Linked DNA regions of Homo sapiens: region 1 is linked to region 2. The links come from fine-mapping of genetic effects on gene expression. Tissue or cell type: lung. Region 2 holds a variant in brackets; the other region holds the start of a gene. All regions are shown on one strand. Distances are from middle to middle.

Evidence for each region. PIP is the estimated chance that this variant, and not a neighbour inherited with it, causes the effect. A credible set is the group of variants that fine-mapping cannot tell apart.
Region 1: it holds the start of HHIP-AS1, and the variant in region 2 is the best candidate, but not a certain one, in a credible set for the expression of HHIP-AS1 in lung (TOPMed, PIP 0.61).

The regions. Positions count from the first base shown.
Region 1 is chr4:144,640,843-144,649,179 of GRCh38, forward strand. HHIP-AS1 (HHIP antisense RNA 1) reads right to left here and starts at 5,177. Exons shown (of 2, transcript NR_037595.1): 1 at 4,865-5,177; 2 at 2,074-2,892. It overlaps HHIP (hedgehog interacting protein), which reads left to right and starts at 5,314. Exons shown (of 13, transcript NM_022475.3): 1 at 5,314-6,112. The coding sequence starts at 5,834. RefSeq lists enhancers at 5,279-5,844, 7,085-7,673.
Region 2 is chr4:144,788,659-144,796,995 of GRCh38, forward strand. No RefSeq gene overlaps it. Among named protein-coding and RNA genes, the nearest start is that of HHIP, 150 kb to the left of the region's middle. The variant T/A (reference allele first, on the strand shown) is at 3,882.

The DNA of each region.
Region 1 (8,337 bases), 150 kb before region 2:
CTGACATCATCAGCTTCATTTCATCATCTCAGGTTATCAACACCCGCTAGGCAGCAACCCTATCTACACAGCTCTACAAGGGCTCTCCAACAAGCATCTAGGTTCTATTAACCCCAACTCTTCCCTCGTCCTCAATCCCTAGGGATGGGAGTGGCTTCCTGCAGTAGTGTTCCCCTTTTGCCTTTTCAGTTCCCTGACACCTATTTAACTAATTCCTCATATGTAATTTGCACTGTGAAAATAGCTAGCATGGTTTATTTCTGACAAAGGCCCCTGATTGAAAACCATCTCATTCCGAATTAAGAGTCTAAATCCATAACATACCTTATAAGATCCCATGCAATGTGGACCCTGGCTATTTCTCTGCCCTTGTTTCTTGTATCTGCCCAAATATTGCCCCAGTAAACACTTTTCCTGACAATGTATACAAAATTATTATTTCTCCCAACCCCTGCAATCTTTCCCCATGCTCCCTTTTCTCTGCAGCATTCCTCCCCATCTGGTATACTCTATATCGTTACCCGTCTTCCCCATTACAATATGAGTTCCATGAAAAAAGTTTTGTTCACTGCTGTGTTCCTAGGGTCCAGAGCAGGCTCTGGCACACAGTAGGTGCTGACTTTTGAAAGAAAGACTAACTGTAGAAAAAATCCTAGAAGCAGCCCTACCATTGTGTCCATTTACCTGAATTATAACCAATCTTTAATTTTTAAAGGCTGTGTATTTATTGCCTCGCTTTGCTGGCCGTCCTTCCTCTGTGGAATCACACTTTAGTAGAAAGGTCAGCTGCACTTCCTTAGTGATGGTGCACTTTAAATTGTGTGCTTTCTTCTATTTCAAAATTTACTTTTTGAGACAGGGTCTTGTTCTGTCACCCAGGCTGGAGTGCAGTGCAATCATAGCTCACTGCATGCAGCCTTGATCTCCTGGGCTCAAGTGATCCCCCCACCTCAGCTTCCCAAGTGGTTGGGACTACAGGTGTGCTCCACCATGCCCGGATAATTTTTCTAATTTTTTTAGAGATGGAGTCTCACTATGTTGCCCAGGTTGGTCTCGAACTCTGGGGCTCAATCAATCCTCCTACCTTGGACTCCCCAGTTGCTGGGATTACAGGGGCAAGCCACTGTGCCTGGCCCAATTTAAAGTTTTTATAATGCAAATATGAGCTCCATTTTAAACCTTTAAAAATTATCAACTCAATCAAGATCAGCCACTCAGCAGCATTTATTGAGAGGCCGGTTGCTCTACTATGAGTCTAAACTAAACTATGTTGGCGTCTCCAAAGAAGGAAATGCAATTCCTGCCCTTCTGGAGATTATAATCTCATGAATATTCAACTTGCACATATAAAAACATCTCAGGTATTTACCAATGATGCACAAAAGAAAATAAATAAAATGTATCTATATGCTTTTTAGATGAAGTGCAATGCTTGAAAGGCCATTCAAACTAGAATAATTCTTAGAAGAGGTTGCTGTTAAGCCAGAATTTAAAGAAAGAGACAAAGATGGATAAGTATAAGGTAGGAAAGAAAGAGCACTTGCAAAAACAAAAGGAAATGACAAATACATGGCACTAACTTAATTAGTTACCTGGAGTGTATAAACTAAAAATCTACGAATTTGGCCTCTAGCCTTTCCATTCTGAGTTATCTATTCTGCACTTCTCCTCAAATGTATCAAATTATATTCTGAACTCAAAAGATCCTATACTTTAAACAGTGGTTGGAGTCACTTCGTACTCCTTCCAAGTCATCCTAAGTCTCAACTGAAATGTCATTTTCCCAGAGAAGTTTTTTCCAGTCACTTAATCTGAAATAGGTGTGCTTTGTTATTCTGTACCTTAGCATTTCTTTCATACCTTTTACCACAATTTATAACTGTAATTTTATTTGTGACCTTATCATTTGTCTTCTATACTAGATTATTAACTACCTAGAAGCAGGGTGTTTGCATTATTTTTCAGTACTATATACATACTGTTTAGCACGGTGCCTGACACTTAATATATATTTGTTGAAATGGAATTAAATAGTACATATTTCTGTGAAGGCCAGAAATCCATACATAAAACTGATTCCAAAACTCAAAATAATTTTATTTCAAACACTTAACAAAGTTAAATTGTCCTCACTTCTGATACACAAAAATGTATATTCATATAACTCTCTTGATATATACATATACATACAAACATAATTCACATACATGGTAATATTCTGACCTTTACCTCTGAAATTAATTTCAATTTGTGTCATATATTTCATTTTTTACAATAAACTAAATACGTTCATAAAAATAATTAATTCTTCTAAAGTAGGGAATATAACCCTGGATAGGACCAGGGTATGAGGGTGGGATGGTCCGAGCTGGTGCCAGCTCATACAAGATGCATTGGTGCACATTTTAAAAAGGACCCACATCCTCTGGGTAGACACAGACACACAACAACATAAGCTCTGCTTGGTGAATGGAGCCTGGGCAGGACTTCAGCTCCCACTTTATGTGCTCTTGCACAGGGCATGACCTATGCATAGGTGGCAGTCCTGGAGAGGGTTGCTCAGTGGTGGTGTGAGCAGAAGATGTGATCTAGCCACCCTTGGGCTGTTCCACTCCTTGCTGGAAAGGGCCGATTTGATTTGTCTGGATTATTTTGGTCAACAAGGGGTCCCTTCTTCTTTTCACCACTCTGTCGGTTTAGCTGAAGAGGAAGACCTCTCCAATGAAAGAGGACCATTTTTCACGTTCAAGTGTATGCATGGCTATCCTCTGCTTCTTCAGCCTCCAAGGGGGCTTTTAAGGTTTAATCTAAAGAAATAACCCTGTATTGATTCTTGATTCCTAAGAAATTATGCTGTCAGTCTGGTTGTAGGCAAGGGTTGCAATTTTCCCTCTGGAAAAAACAAATCAGAAGTTAGTCCATTTGTATAACACTGCTTAGTAACTGTTTAGAAATTATATCAGTAACACTAAGAATAAGCTCAAGCTATCTCCTAAGTGACCCAATTTATTGACTTTCAGGACAAACAGTATATGAAATCAATTCTAATTTCCATATATCAAGAAATAACAAGCATGTCTTATTTCAGTAATCTTTTATAAACTTTCTATATCTTAGGGTCGTAGGTTATAACAGATGCATAGTATTTTAAAACCAAAATAAATTTACCTTTAAGTGGCCTTAGTATAAGCCATAAGAAAGGCCTGTTTCAAAACTACTAACAGGAATTTATCAGAGTAGGAGCTCAAACTACTGAAATACGATTTTAGAAGGACTTTTATTTTGGAAAAAGAATATAAAACTGGAATTTGGGAAGAAAGGGTTAGATAGTGGAAAGCACCCCAGATTGGATCCGAGTCCTTATTCTCAAACTACCTAATGAGATGAAATTGTGCAAGTGATTTAAATTTGATGAGATTCATCTGGAGATCTATTAATGAGTTTAAAGTCTTAAAGTGCTTACTGCTTTCTGATTAATTTTATATTAAAAGTCCTCAAAGCAGAAAGAATGTCAGATAAAAAAAAGTATGTGAGATCCAAAGTGGACTTACAATCACATGCATGAAGAAGTCATGTGTATACAACAGCCCCTGGGGAAAATGTTAAATATGTCATGGGGGCTCTACATTTAGCTGAGGACTGGGCCAAACATCCTAGCAGATTCTTTTCAGTTATTCTGATGTGTCATCTCTTTGGGGAAAAACCTAACTTCACTAATATCCAGGCTCAGGAAGTGAAAAAGACAGAAGCCTTACCTAGCCACTGTGACCAGAAGTGATTAATTTAATCAACTGCCCACCTCAACCATCACCAACTTTTGCAATCACTTGGCGAAATCAATGTCCAACAAGTGAAGCAAACCCAAATGTGGTGAACATTCCTCCATTGCCAAAATGGGACAACTGCCTTATCTCCTCATCAAAGCCCATCTTCTGGGAAATCAGCTTCTCTGTTAAATACCCAAGTGGGCTAGAAGCGCATTTTGTGGGCAACCCTATAGAAGCTCGTCCTGATGCCAACTTGCAGGGATCCAGTAAACCTCAAGTCACCGCTCCTGATAACGTAGACATCTTTTTAGACACACTATTTACACAGACTTTGTCTAGCTGGGGAAAAGGTTAATTTACTTGTATACACGGGGATAAGTAGAGCACAGCGCTTCTGGATGCCCTCAGACTTGCATCTAATTCTTTCTCCAGATCTAACGCCTCTGTTTCTACACCCAGGGGAACCTCTCCCCAGGGACTGCGCGCGCGTGCGTGCAGGTGTGTGTGTGTGTGTGTGTGTGTGTGTGTTTGTGTGTGTTAAAACGAACACTAATTCCGCGCCCAGCTTCTCTCTCCGTCCACCTGCGGCCCAAGAACTTGTGTTCCCAGATGGTACCAGCGGGGCCCGGCTTATTCCCGAACACATGTGGGGACCTGAAAGGGGCGTCGGGGACTAACCCGCCCAAACCGTGGCAAACACTCTGGGAGGCCGACTTGGGCTTGGCCTGTGGCCCGACACACCGCCCCACTCCGCGCACACGCGTCTGTGCCACTTCAGTGGCTTGCAGGACCTCCGGCGAGGATGAGTCTCCAAACCATCTCAGCCTACTCAACGGCATCTGGGATGTCCCCCTGCCTCTAAGTCAGACCCCAAGAAAGATCTTTGAGGACTTGAGCTTCACGTTGAAAATCAGTGTGGAAAATGGGGGTGTCAGTGCGGCTGGGGGAGACAAAGGGGCCCAAAAGCTCCCTCCCGTCCGCTCCAGCCCACTTAGTTCACCCTCCCACGGGGCGAGGGGCGGGCCGGGGGGCTGAGGTGGGGATGGCCCTGGAAGGGGTCCCTCCCTTCCCACCTCCTACGGCCCACTCTTACTTACTTTCTTTCGGAGCCTCAGCTTGGCCGCCTTTAGCCCAGGCAGTGCGGAGGGGAAGCGGGGAGGAGAGAGGAGCCTGCGGGCTGCAGCAGCCGGGCAGTCCCGGAATCTCCGGACTGCGTCCCTGCCCCAAGCCCGCCGGGAACCCGGGCCGTGGACGCCCCCACCCGGGGGCCGCGGCGAGGCGGGCGCGCGGGGTTCAGCACCCTCGAGGCTGGTTCCGAAGGCTCGCGGCCCTCCCCCTCCGTCCGCCGCCGTCGCGGCTAGCCGCCCCTCCCCGCCGCAGCAGGGAGGCCGCCGGGGCCCGGGGGACGCGCTCGCGCGGGGGCCGCCCCCTCCCCTTCCCTCCACCCTGGGCGGGGGCGCGCGAGAAGCGGTGACGTCAAGGGGCGCGCTGTGGCAGCACCTCCCCGCGCGCTAGTTAAAAAGAAGAAGAAAAGAGGGAACGAAACATGAGAGGCTGTGTGAGAAGCTGCAGCCGCCGGCAGAGGAGACCTCAGCATCATCTAGAGCCCAGCGCTGGCCCTGCCTCCGCCTGCCCCGCCGCCGCCGTCGCCGTTTCTGTTCCTGCTACTGTCCCACCTAAACAACTCCCGTTACACGGACAAGTGAACATCTGTGGCTGTCCTCTCCTTTTCTTCCTCCTCTTCCAACTCCTTCTCCTCCTCCCACTTCCCAGCCGCAGCAGAAAGCCCCCAACCCAACTGACACTGGCACAACTGCAAACGGTGTCATCCGCACAACTTTATCTCGCTCCTCGGGCTCCCCTAAGGCATTGGACCCATCGCCGCGTCTTTTATTTTTTGCAAAGTTGCATCGCTGTACATATTTTTGTCCCCGCCACCTCCCTCTGTCTCTGGAGTGCCCTACAGCCCCGCAAACTCCTCCTGGAGCTGCGCCCTAGTGCCCCTGCTGGGCAGTGGCGTTCCCCCCCATCCTCCCGCGCCCAGCCCCTGCTGCTCTGGGCAGACGATGCTGAAGATGCTCTCCTTTAAGCTGCTGCTGCTGGCCGTGGCTCTGGGCTTCTTTGAAGGAGATGCTAAGTTTGGGGAAAGAAACGAAGGGAGCGGAGCAAGGAGGAGAAGGTGCCTGAATGGGAACCCCCCGAAGCGCCTGAAAAGGAGAGACAGGAGGATGATGTCCCAGCTGGAGCTGCTGAGTGGGGGAGAGATGCTGTGCGGTGGCTTCTACCCTCGGCTGTCCTGCTGCCTGCGGAGTGACAGCCCGGGGCTAGGGCGCCTGGAGAATAAGGTAGGCACTCACCGGCTTCACGGATGCGTACTTGGCATATTGGCTGGGTGGGGTTCCCTGTGGCTCTGGCAAAGCCGGTGGTTGTAAGAAGGTCAAAACTTCTTTGGGGGAGTTCTTTCCATAACTTTTCTATAGCGCTAACGTGATTCCGTTGTGTGTTCCTCTGGGGTAAGCAAGTAGCATTTCCTCCCCCAGAGTCCGCGGTCGGGATGCTGTGCAAACTTGCCTATCTCTGAAAACAGACGTTTCTGCGGTACCCGCACCCTGGGCTGGGTAAATATTTTAAAAGAATCGCGATGAACAGTGTGTTTTGGATCGAATGGGGCATTGGCTGCGGTGAAACTGTAAATTAAGGTGGCTGTGGTTTCCGGCTTATTTTTCTAGGGTAAAAAGATTTGTGCTGTTTTCTCCACGTGCTCGGTTAGGGAGAGGATTGAATCGTAAAGGATGTTGAAGCATGGTTGGTTTATGATCCCCAGCCCCGTCAGAGGGGGGTGTCTTGCATTACATTAGTTAAACCAACAGAAAGGAACTCCTGGTCCTCCGGTTAGGGACCTGAAAAAAACTGGCGAAAGATTTTGCTGGGGCGTTATTTATCACATAAAACTGAGACGATTCTCCGTCATTTTGTAACATTATAAATTCAGACTTTCAGGGTCAGTTGGTGTCTTGGAAGATCTACTCTAAGAATTTGTTTTAAGAGTAATGGCATTTACGTTATCCTTGTGTTAATAAGTTTAAATACTAACATGGTGTTTGTTGACTGTAAAGGCACGCTTGTTTTTGAGTTTGCAATATCGTTCTTGCCAGGAGATGCAGTCATGGGTGGTATCTACTGTACTCCAAGGAATCATTGCTGGCTCACATCATTAACAATCACTGCACGTGAAATAAACAATCAGGTGTCTTTGCTCCCCCTCCCTTTCCCCATTTTAGGTTTAATTAAGAATTCCTCTGTTAGAACACTGCCAGTTGTCAAGGTCTGAGAGACTCTTGGAAAACTTGTGCTTCAGTCTTGCTGGCCCAGGCATAATAAAAAAAAAAAATACCCAGGCTGAATCTAATTTTTATGCTCAGTTCACGGTAGATTTCACTCTATTCTCATGTAAACAGCTCCTACGAATCAACATATGTGTCTGGGTGGTATCTCTCACTTTGTTTTGTAACAAAAAGCCATATTGCATCATTTAATTTGCTCAAGTCATGCAAATAGGAAAAAATCAATAGGACAAAAAGGGGTCGACTTATCCTCCTCCCCACTAAACTGCTGCCCACACACAGAGTCCTGTTGCTTATGGCAAAAGAATAACAACAACACCATTGTATTTGTTAGTTGGTTCACTAATGGGTGAAACTAGAGAACATCATTCTCTTTCAGTCCCCAGCTCTGTCCAAATGTTCATGCCTTTTGAGGGAGCATTTGTCCAACTCCTTCTATTCCCAGATGAGTGAGAACTGTCTTGCTGCAGGTTTTCAGCTGCAACTCTCTTTTTATTCTTACCATATGCAGCAGGAGCCTGAGATTCAGGGAACAGATATTCCAGGATTTTATTCAAAGCAATGTCTTTAAGCTCCTGTGTTGCAACTGAATTAAGTTTCAAAATAGCTATATTCAGGTCACCTTAAAGGTTTTATCAGGAGCCCTAAAGAACCAGGAAATTCAGAGAAAAGTTTAGAAATATTTGCCATTAAGTCTCCCTTGGTGCAATACGTACTATGAATATACTGATGATCTAGAGACCCCTGCAATACTCAACTCTTCCAGAGACATGTGGAATGAAAATTTTGTTCTTGACTAAATGGTGAGGAGAAGGGGAAGGGGGATGGGACCAAGGGGAGTTATAGCCCTTAAGAGAAGTTATATAAAAATTTTTTTAAAGAAATCATTCTTTAGGAAGCAATCTGCCATGTTAACTATATACATTCCTTTCTGTTTTATGTGCTTCCAATCTCCAACAAACCCCTACTCATTTGGAAAGTGTGTCTGAATTAAGTTTGGTACACTAGACTTTTGCTGGTTCTATTACAAGAGGTTTATAAATCAACAATACCCAAATTGTTCAAAACAGAGATTTGCTATAGCTATGCATATGCATTCTTGACCTATGTTAGTTTTCAAGTTTTAATAGTTTTTAAAACATGTTATTTTATAATAAACTTCAGTGTTTCCCTTTTTCCCGTAAGCCTTCCTGGATTATAATATATGTTAGGATCTTATTTCATAA
Region 2 (8,337 bases):
TCTGTGCCTTTATCCAAACTTTCCATTACTTGTTCAGTTTTTTTTAAACAAACACCATTGTTTACAGATCCAGATTTGATTTCACAAAGAATTTATTTCATAATTTGAGACTAAAGTGCTTTTTATAATTTAATTATTTGTATTGCTACATTCAAGAAGTTTTTCCATCACTCTAACAGAAAAACACGTTTTTTAAAGTTTTAAAAACAAGAGAATCTTTAAAACTGGTTCAAAATAAAGGAACTACAGTATGTCCAAAGAATGTGAAATATATTTGTAATAAAAGACCTACTGTATTTCCAAAAGAATGTGAAATATAATTATTGTTTTATAATTTATCATTCTTTCGTAACAATTTTCATAACTATTTATATGATTACATGGTCTCCTTTCTAAAGGAAGTAAATGAGAAACCAGTATAAGAACCTCAGACCTACCCTACAAAAAATACTAAAGGGGGTTCTTCAGGGTGAAATTAAAGGAATCCAGATGGTGACTCAAATCCACATGCAGAAAAAAATGAGCACCTGTAAGGATAATTACATAGGTAAAACTAAAAGAATAAATCGATTTTTGTTTGTAATTTGGTTTTCTTCACCCTTTTTTTAATGTTTATTTTCAGTTCAGGGGTACATGTGCAGGTTTGTTAATATAGGTAAACTTGTGTCATGGAGGTTTGTTGTGCAGATTATTTCATCACGCAGGTATTAAGCCTAGTACCCATTAGTTATTTATCCTGATCCAACCCTCACCCTCCAAAAGGCTCCAGTGTGTATTGTTCCCCTCTATGTGTCCTTGTGTTCCCATCATTTAGCTCACACTTATGAGTGAGAACATGCAGTATTTGGTTTTCTGTTCCTGTGTTAGTTTGCTAAGGATGATGGCCTCCAGCTCCATTCATGCTCCTGCAAAGGACATAATCTTATTATTTTTTATGACTGTGTAGTAGTCCATGTACCACCGTGTATATGTACCACATTTTCTTTATCCAGTCTATCACTTATGGGCATTTAGGTTGATTCCATGTCTTCACTATTGTGAATAATACTGCAATAAACATACACATGCATGTGTCTTTATAATAGAATAATTTATATTCATTTGGGCATGTACCCAGTAATGGAATTTCTTGGTCAAATGGTATTTCTGTCTTTAGTACTTTGAGGCATCATCACGCTGCTTTCTACAATGGTTGAACTAATTTACATTCCCAACAACAGTGTATAAGTGTTCCTTTTTCTCCAAAACTTCGCCAGCATCTGTTATTTTTTGACTTTTTAATAATAAACATTCTGACTAGTGTCAGATGATATCTCATTGTTGTTTTGATTTGCATTTCTCTAATGATCAATGACGTTGAGGTTTTTTTCATATGATTGTATGTCTTCTTTTGAAAAGTATCTTTTCATGTCCTTTGCCCACTTTTTAATGGGGTTGTTTGTTTTTTTGCTTGTTAATTTGCTTAAGTTCCTTATAGATGCTGGATATTGGACCTTTGTCATATCCATGCATTACAAAACTTTCTTCAATTATGTAGGTTATCTGTTCACTCTGTTGATACTTTCCTTCGCTGTACAGAAGCTCTTTAATTTTATTAGATCCCATTTATCAATTTTTGCTTTTGTTGCAATTGCTTTTGGCATCTTCATCATGAAATCTTTGCCTGTTCCTATGTCCTGAATGTTATTGCCTAGATTGCCTTCCAGGGTTTTGATAGTTTTGGGTTTTACATTTCGGTCTTTAATCCATCTTGAGTTAATTTTTCTATAAATATAAATATATAAATATATATATATATGTATATATATATAATATATATATATATATATATATATATATATATAGTATATAGTGTAAGAAAGAGGTCTAGTTTCAATCTTGTGCATATGGCTAGCTAGTTATCATAGCACCATTTATTGAATAGGGAATTCTTTCTCCATTGCTTGTTTTTGTCTGGTTTGCCAAAGATCAGATGGCTGTAGTTGGGTGACCTTACTTCTGGGTTCTCTATTCTGTTCCATTGGTCTATGCAACTGTTTTTGTACCAGTACCAGTTGTTTTGGTCCTATAGCCCTGTAGTATAGTTTGAAGTCGGGTGGCATGATGCCTCCAGCTTTGATTTTTGTTTTCTGGGTTTTTCTGTTGTTGTTGTTGTTGTTTTTGTTTTTGTTTTCCTTAGGATTGCCTTGGCTATTTAGGCAGTTTTTTTGGTTCCATGTGAATTTTAAAATAGTTTTTTTTTCCCTAATTCTGTCAAGAATCTCAATGGTAGTTTAATAGGAATACCACTGAATCTATAAATGCTTTGAGCAGTATGGCCATTTTTACAATATTTACCCTTCTTTTCCATAAGCATGAAATATTTTTCCCTTTGTGTAATCTCTGATTTCTTTGAGCACTGTTTTGTAGTTCTCCTTGTAGAGATCTTCACCTCCCTTGTTAGCTGTATTCCTAGTTATTTTAATCTTTTTGTGGCAATTTTGAACGGGATTGTGTTCCTGATTTGGCTCTTGGCTTGACTGTTGTTGATATATAGGAATATTGGTGATTTTTGCAAATTGATTTTATATCCTGAGACTTTGCTGAAGTTGTTTATCAGTTTAAGAAACTTTTGAGCTGAAACTACGAAGTTTTCTAGATATAGAATCATGTTGTCTGCCAACAGGAATAGTTTGACTTTCCCTCTTCCTATTTGGATGACCTTTATTTCTTTCTCTTGCCTGATTGCCCTGGCCAGGACTTCCAATACTATGTTGAATATCAGTGGTGAAAGAGTGCATCCTTGTCTTGTGTCAGTTTTCAAGGCAATGCTGCCAGTTTTTGCCCATTCAGTATAATCTTAGCCATGGGCTAAGAATAGATGGCTCTTATTCTTTTCAGATATGTTCCTTCAATAGCTACTTTTTTGAGAATTTTTAACATGAAGTGGTGTTAAATTTTATCAAAAGACTTTTCTGGTTCCAAGATGGCCGAATAGGAACAGCTCCAGTCTACAGCTCCCAGCATGAGTGACACAGAAGACGGGTGATTTCTGCATTTCCAACTGAGATGCTGGGTTCATCTCACTGGGGCTTGTCGGACAGTGGGTGCAGCCCACGGAGTGTGAGCTGAAGCAGGGTGAGGCATCACCTCACCCGGGAAGTGCAAGGGGTCAGGAAATTCCCTTTCCTAGTCAAAGAAAGGGGTGACAGATGGCACCTGGAAACTCAGGACACTCCCACCCTAATACTGTGCTTTTCCAATGGTCTTAGCAAACGGCACACAAGGAGATTATATCCCACGCCTGGCACCGAGGGTCTCACACCCATGGAGCGTTGCTCACTGCTAGTGCAGCAGTCTGAGATCAAACTGCAAGGTGGCAGCGAGGCTAGGGGAGGGGCATCCACCATTGCTGAGGCTTGAGTAGGTAAACAAAGCAGCCAGGAAGCTCAAACTGGGTGGAGCCCACCGCAGCTCAAGGAGGCCTGCCTGCCTCTGTAGTCTCCACATCTGGGGGCAGGGCATAGCTGAACAAAAGGCAACAGAAACCACTGCAGACTTAAATGTCCCTGTCTGACAGCTTTGAAGAGAGTAGCAGTTCTCCCAGCACGCAGCTGGAGATCTGAGAACGGACAGACTGCCTCCTCAAGTAGGTCCCTGACCGCTGAGTAGCCTAACTGGGAGGCACCCTCCAGTAGGGGCAGACTGACACCCCACACAGCCTGGTACCCCTCTGAGATGAAGATTCCAGAGGAACGATCAGGCAGCAACATTTGCTGTTGAGCAATATTTGCTGTTCTGCAGGCTCTGCTGCTGATATCCAGGCAAACAGGGTCTGGAGTGGACCTCCAGCAAATTCCAACAGACCTGCAGCTAAGGGTGCTGACTGTTAGAAGGAAAAC[T/A]AACAAACAGAAAGGACATCCACACCAAAAACCCATCTGTACGTCACCGTCATCAAAGACCAAAGGTAGATAAACCACAAAGATGGGGAAAAACGAGCAGAAAAACTGGAAACTCTAAAAATCAGAGTGCCTCTCCTCCTCCAAAGGAATGCAGCTCCTCACCAGCAACGGAACAAAGCTGGATAGAGAATGACTTTGACGAGTTGAGAGAAGAAGGCTTCAGAAGATCAAACTACTCCGAGCTAAAGGAGAAAGTTTGAACCCATGGAAAAGAAGTTAAAAACCTTGAAAAAAGATTAGATGAATGGCTAACTAGAATAACCAATGCAGAGAAGTCCTTAAAGGACCTGATAGAGCTGAAAACCATGGCACGAGAACTACGTGATGAATGGACAAGCCTCAGTAGCCGATGCGATCAACTGGAAGAAAGGCTATCAGTGATGGAAGATGAAACGAATGAAATGAAGTGAGAAGAGAAGTTTAGAGAAAAAAGAATAAAAAGAAACAAACAAAACCTCCAAGAAATATGGGACTATGTGAAAAGACCAAATCTATGTCTGATTCGTGTACCTGAAAGTGAAGGGGAGAATGGAACCAAGTTGGAAAACACTCTGCAGGATATTATCCAGGAGAATTTCCCCAAACTAGCAAGGCAGGCCAACATTCAAATTCAGGAAATACAGAGAACACCACAAAGATACTCCTAGAGAAGAGCAACTCCAAGACACATAATCGTCAGATTCACCAAAGTTGAAATGAAGGAAAAAATGTTAAGGGCAGCCAGAGAGAAAGGTCGGATTACCCACAAAGGGAAGCCCATCACACTAACAGCTGATCTCTCGGCAGAAACTCTACAAACCAGAAGAGAGTGGGGGGCCAATATTCAACATTCTTAAAGAAAAGAATTTTCAACCCAGAATTTCATATCCAGCCAAACTGAGCTTCATAAGTGAAGGAGAAATAAAATACTTTAAAGACAAGAAAATGCTGAGAGATTTTGTCACCACCAGGCCTGCCCTAAAAGAGCTCCTGAAGGAAGCACTAAACATGGAAAGGAACAACTGATGCCAGCCACTGCAAAAACATGCCAAATTGTAAAGACCATCAAGGCTAGGAAGAAACTGCATCAACTAACGAGCAAAATAACCAGCTAACATCATAATGACAGGATCAAATTCACACATAACAATATTAACCTTAAATGTAAATGGGCTAAATGCTCCAATTAAAAGACAAATACTGGCAAATTGGATCAAGAGTCAAGACCCATCAGTGTGCTGTATTCGGGAAACCCATCACACGTGCAGAGACACACATAGGCTCAAAATAAAGGGATGGAGGAAGATCTACCAAGCAAATGGAAAACAAAAAAAAAGCAGGGATTGCAATCCGAGTCTCTGATAAACCAGACTTTAAACCAACAAAGAGCAAAAGAGACAAAGGCCATTACATAATGGTAAAGGGATCAATTCAACAAGAAGAGCTAACTATCCTAAATATATATGCACCCAATACAGGAGCATGCAGATTCATAAAGCAAGTCCTTAGTAACCTACAAAGAGACTTAGACTCCCACACAATAATAATGAGAGACTTTAACACCCCACTGTCAACATTAGACAGATCAATGAGACAGAAAGTTAACAAGGATATCCAGGAATTGAACTCAGCTCTGCACCAAGAGGACCTAATGGACATCTACAGAACTCTCCACCCCAAATCAACAGAATATGCATTCTTTTCAGCACCACACCACACCTATTCCAAAATTGACCACATACTTGGAAGTAAAGCACTCCTCAGAAAATGTAAAAGAACAGAAATTATAACAAACTGTCTCTCAGATCACAGTGCAATCAAACTAGAACTCAGGATTAAGAAACTCACTCAAAACCACTCAACTACATGGAAACTGAACAACCTGCTCCTGAATGACTACTGGGTACATAACGAAATGAAGGCAGAAATAAAGAAGTTCTTTGAAACCAATGAGAACAAAGACACAACATACCAGAATCTCTGGGACACATTCAAAGCAGTGTATAGAGGGACATTTATAGCACTAAATACCCACAAGAGAAAGCAGGAAAGATCTAAAATTGACACCCTAACATCACAATTAAAAGAACTAGAGAAGCAAGAGCAAACACATTCAAAAGCTAGCAGAAGGCAAGAAATAACTAAGATCAGAGCAGAACTGAAGGAAATAGAGACACAACAAACCCTTCAAAAAATCAATGAATACAGGAGCTGGTTTTGTGAAAAAATCAACAAAATTGATAGACCGCTAGCAAGACTAATAAAGAAGAAAAGACAGAAGAATCAAATAGATGCAATAAAAAATGATAAAGGGGATATCACCACCGATCCCACAGAAATACAAACTACCATCAGAGAATACTATAAACATGTCTATGCAAATAAACTAGAAAATCTAGAAGAAATGGATAAATTCCTCAACACATACACCCTCCCAAGACAAAACCAGGAAGAAGTTGAATCTCTGAATAGACCAATAACAGGCTCTGAAAATGAGGCAATAATTAGTAGCTTACCAACCAAAAAAAGTCCAGGACCAGATGGATTCACAGCCGAATTCTACCAGAGGTACAAGGAGGAGCTGGGACCATTCCTTCTGAAACTGTTCCAATCAATAGAAAAAGAAGAAATCCTCCCTAACTCATTTTATGAGGCCAGCATCATCCTGATACCAAAGCCTGGCAGAGACACAACAAAAAAAAGAGAATTTTAGACCAATATCATTGATGAACATCGATGCAAAAATCCTCAATAAAATACTGGCAAACAAAATCCAGCAGCACATCAAAAAGCTTATCCACCATGATCAAGTGGGCTTCATCCCTGGGATGCAAGGCTGGTTCAACATACGAAAATCAATAAACGTAATCCAGCATATAAACAGAACCAAAGACAAAAACCACATGATTATCTCAATAGATGCAGAAAAGGCCTTTGACAACCCTTCATGCTAAAAACTCTCAATAAATTAGGTATGGATGGGACGTATCTCAAAATAATAAGAGCTATCTATGACAAACCCACAGCCAATATCATACTGAATGGACAAAAACTGGAAGCATTCCCTTTGAAAAGTGGCACAAGAGAGGCATGCCCTCTCTCACTACTCCTATTCAACATAGTGTTGGAAGTTCTGGCCAGGGCAATCAGGCAAGAGAAAGAAATAAAGGGTATTCAATCAGGAAAAGAGGAAGTCAAATTGTCCCTGTTTGTAGATGACATGATTGTATATTTAGAAAACCCCATTGTCTCAGCTCAAAATCTCCTTAAGCTGATAAGCAACTTCAGCAAAGCCTCAGGATACAAAATCCACGTGCAAAAATCACAAGCATTCTTATACACCAATTACAGACAAACAGAGAGCCAAATCATGAGGGAACTCCCATCACAATTGCTTCAAAGACAATAAAATACCTAGGAATCCAACTTACAAGGGATGTGAAGGACCTCTTTAAGGAGAACTACAAACCACTGCTCAACGAAATAAAAGAGGACATAAACAAACGGAAGAACATTCCATGCTCATGGATGGGAAGAATCAATATCATGAAAATGGCCATACTGCCCAAGGTAATTTATAGATTCAATGCCATCCCCATCAAGCTACCAATGACTTTCTTCACAGAATTGGAAAAAACTACTTTAAAATTCATATGGAACCAAAAAAGAGACCTCATTGCCAATCCTAAGCAAAAAGAACAAAGCTGGAGGCATCACGCGATCTGACTTCAAACTATACTACAAGGCTACAGTAGCCAAAACAGCATGGTACCGGTACCAAAACAGAGATATAGACCAATAGAACAGAACAGAGCCCTCAGAAATAATACCATACATCTATGACTGTCTGATGTTTGACAAACCTGACAAAAACAAGAAATGGGGAAAGGATTCCCTGTTTAATAAATGGTGCTGGGAAAACTGGCTAGCCATATGTAGAAGGCTGAAACTGGATCCCTTCCTTACACATTATACGAAAATTAATTCAAAATGAATTAAAGACTTAAATGTTAGACCTAAAACCATAAAAACCCTAGAAGAAAACCTAGGCAATACCATTCAGGACATAGGCATGGCCAAGGACTTCATGACTAAAACACCAAAAGCAATGGCAACAAAAGCCAAAATTGACAAATGGGATCTAATTAAACTGAAGAGCTTCTGCACAGCAAAAGAAACTACCATCAGAGTGAACAGGCAACCTACAGAATGGGAGAAAATTTTTACAATCTATCTATCTGACAAAGGGCTGATATCCAGAATCTACAAAGAACATAAACTAATTTACAAGAAAAAAGCAAACTTTTAAGCAAACTTAATGGGGGACCTGTGGCCCCTTTCTTTCAGCCAATTTTTTTCCCTTTGGAAACAGGAGTATTTATCCAGTGCCTATATTCCCATTATATCTTGGAAGTGT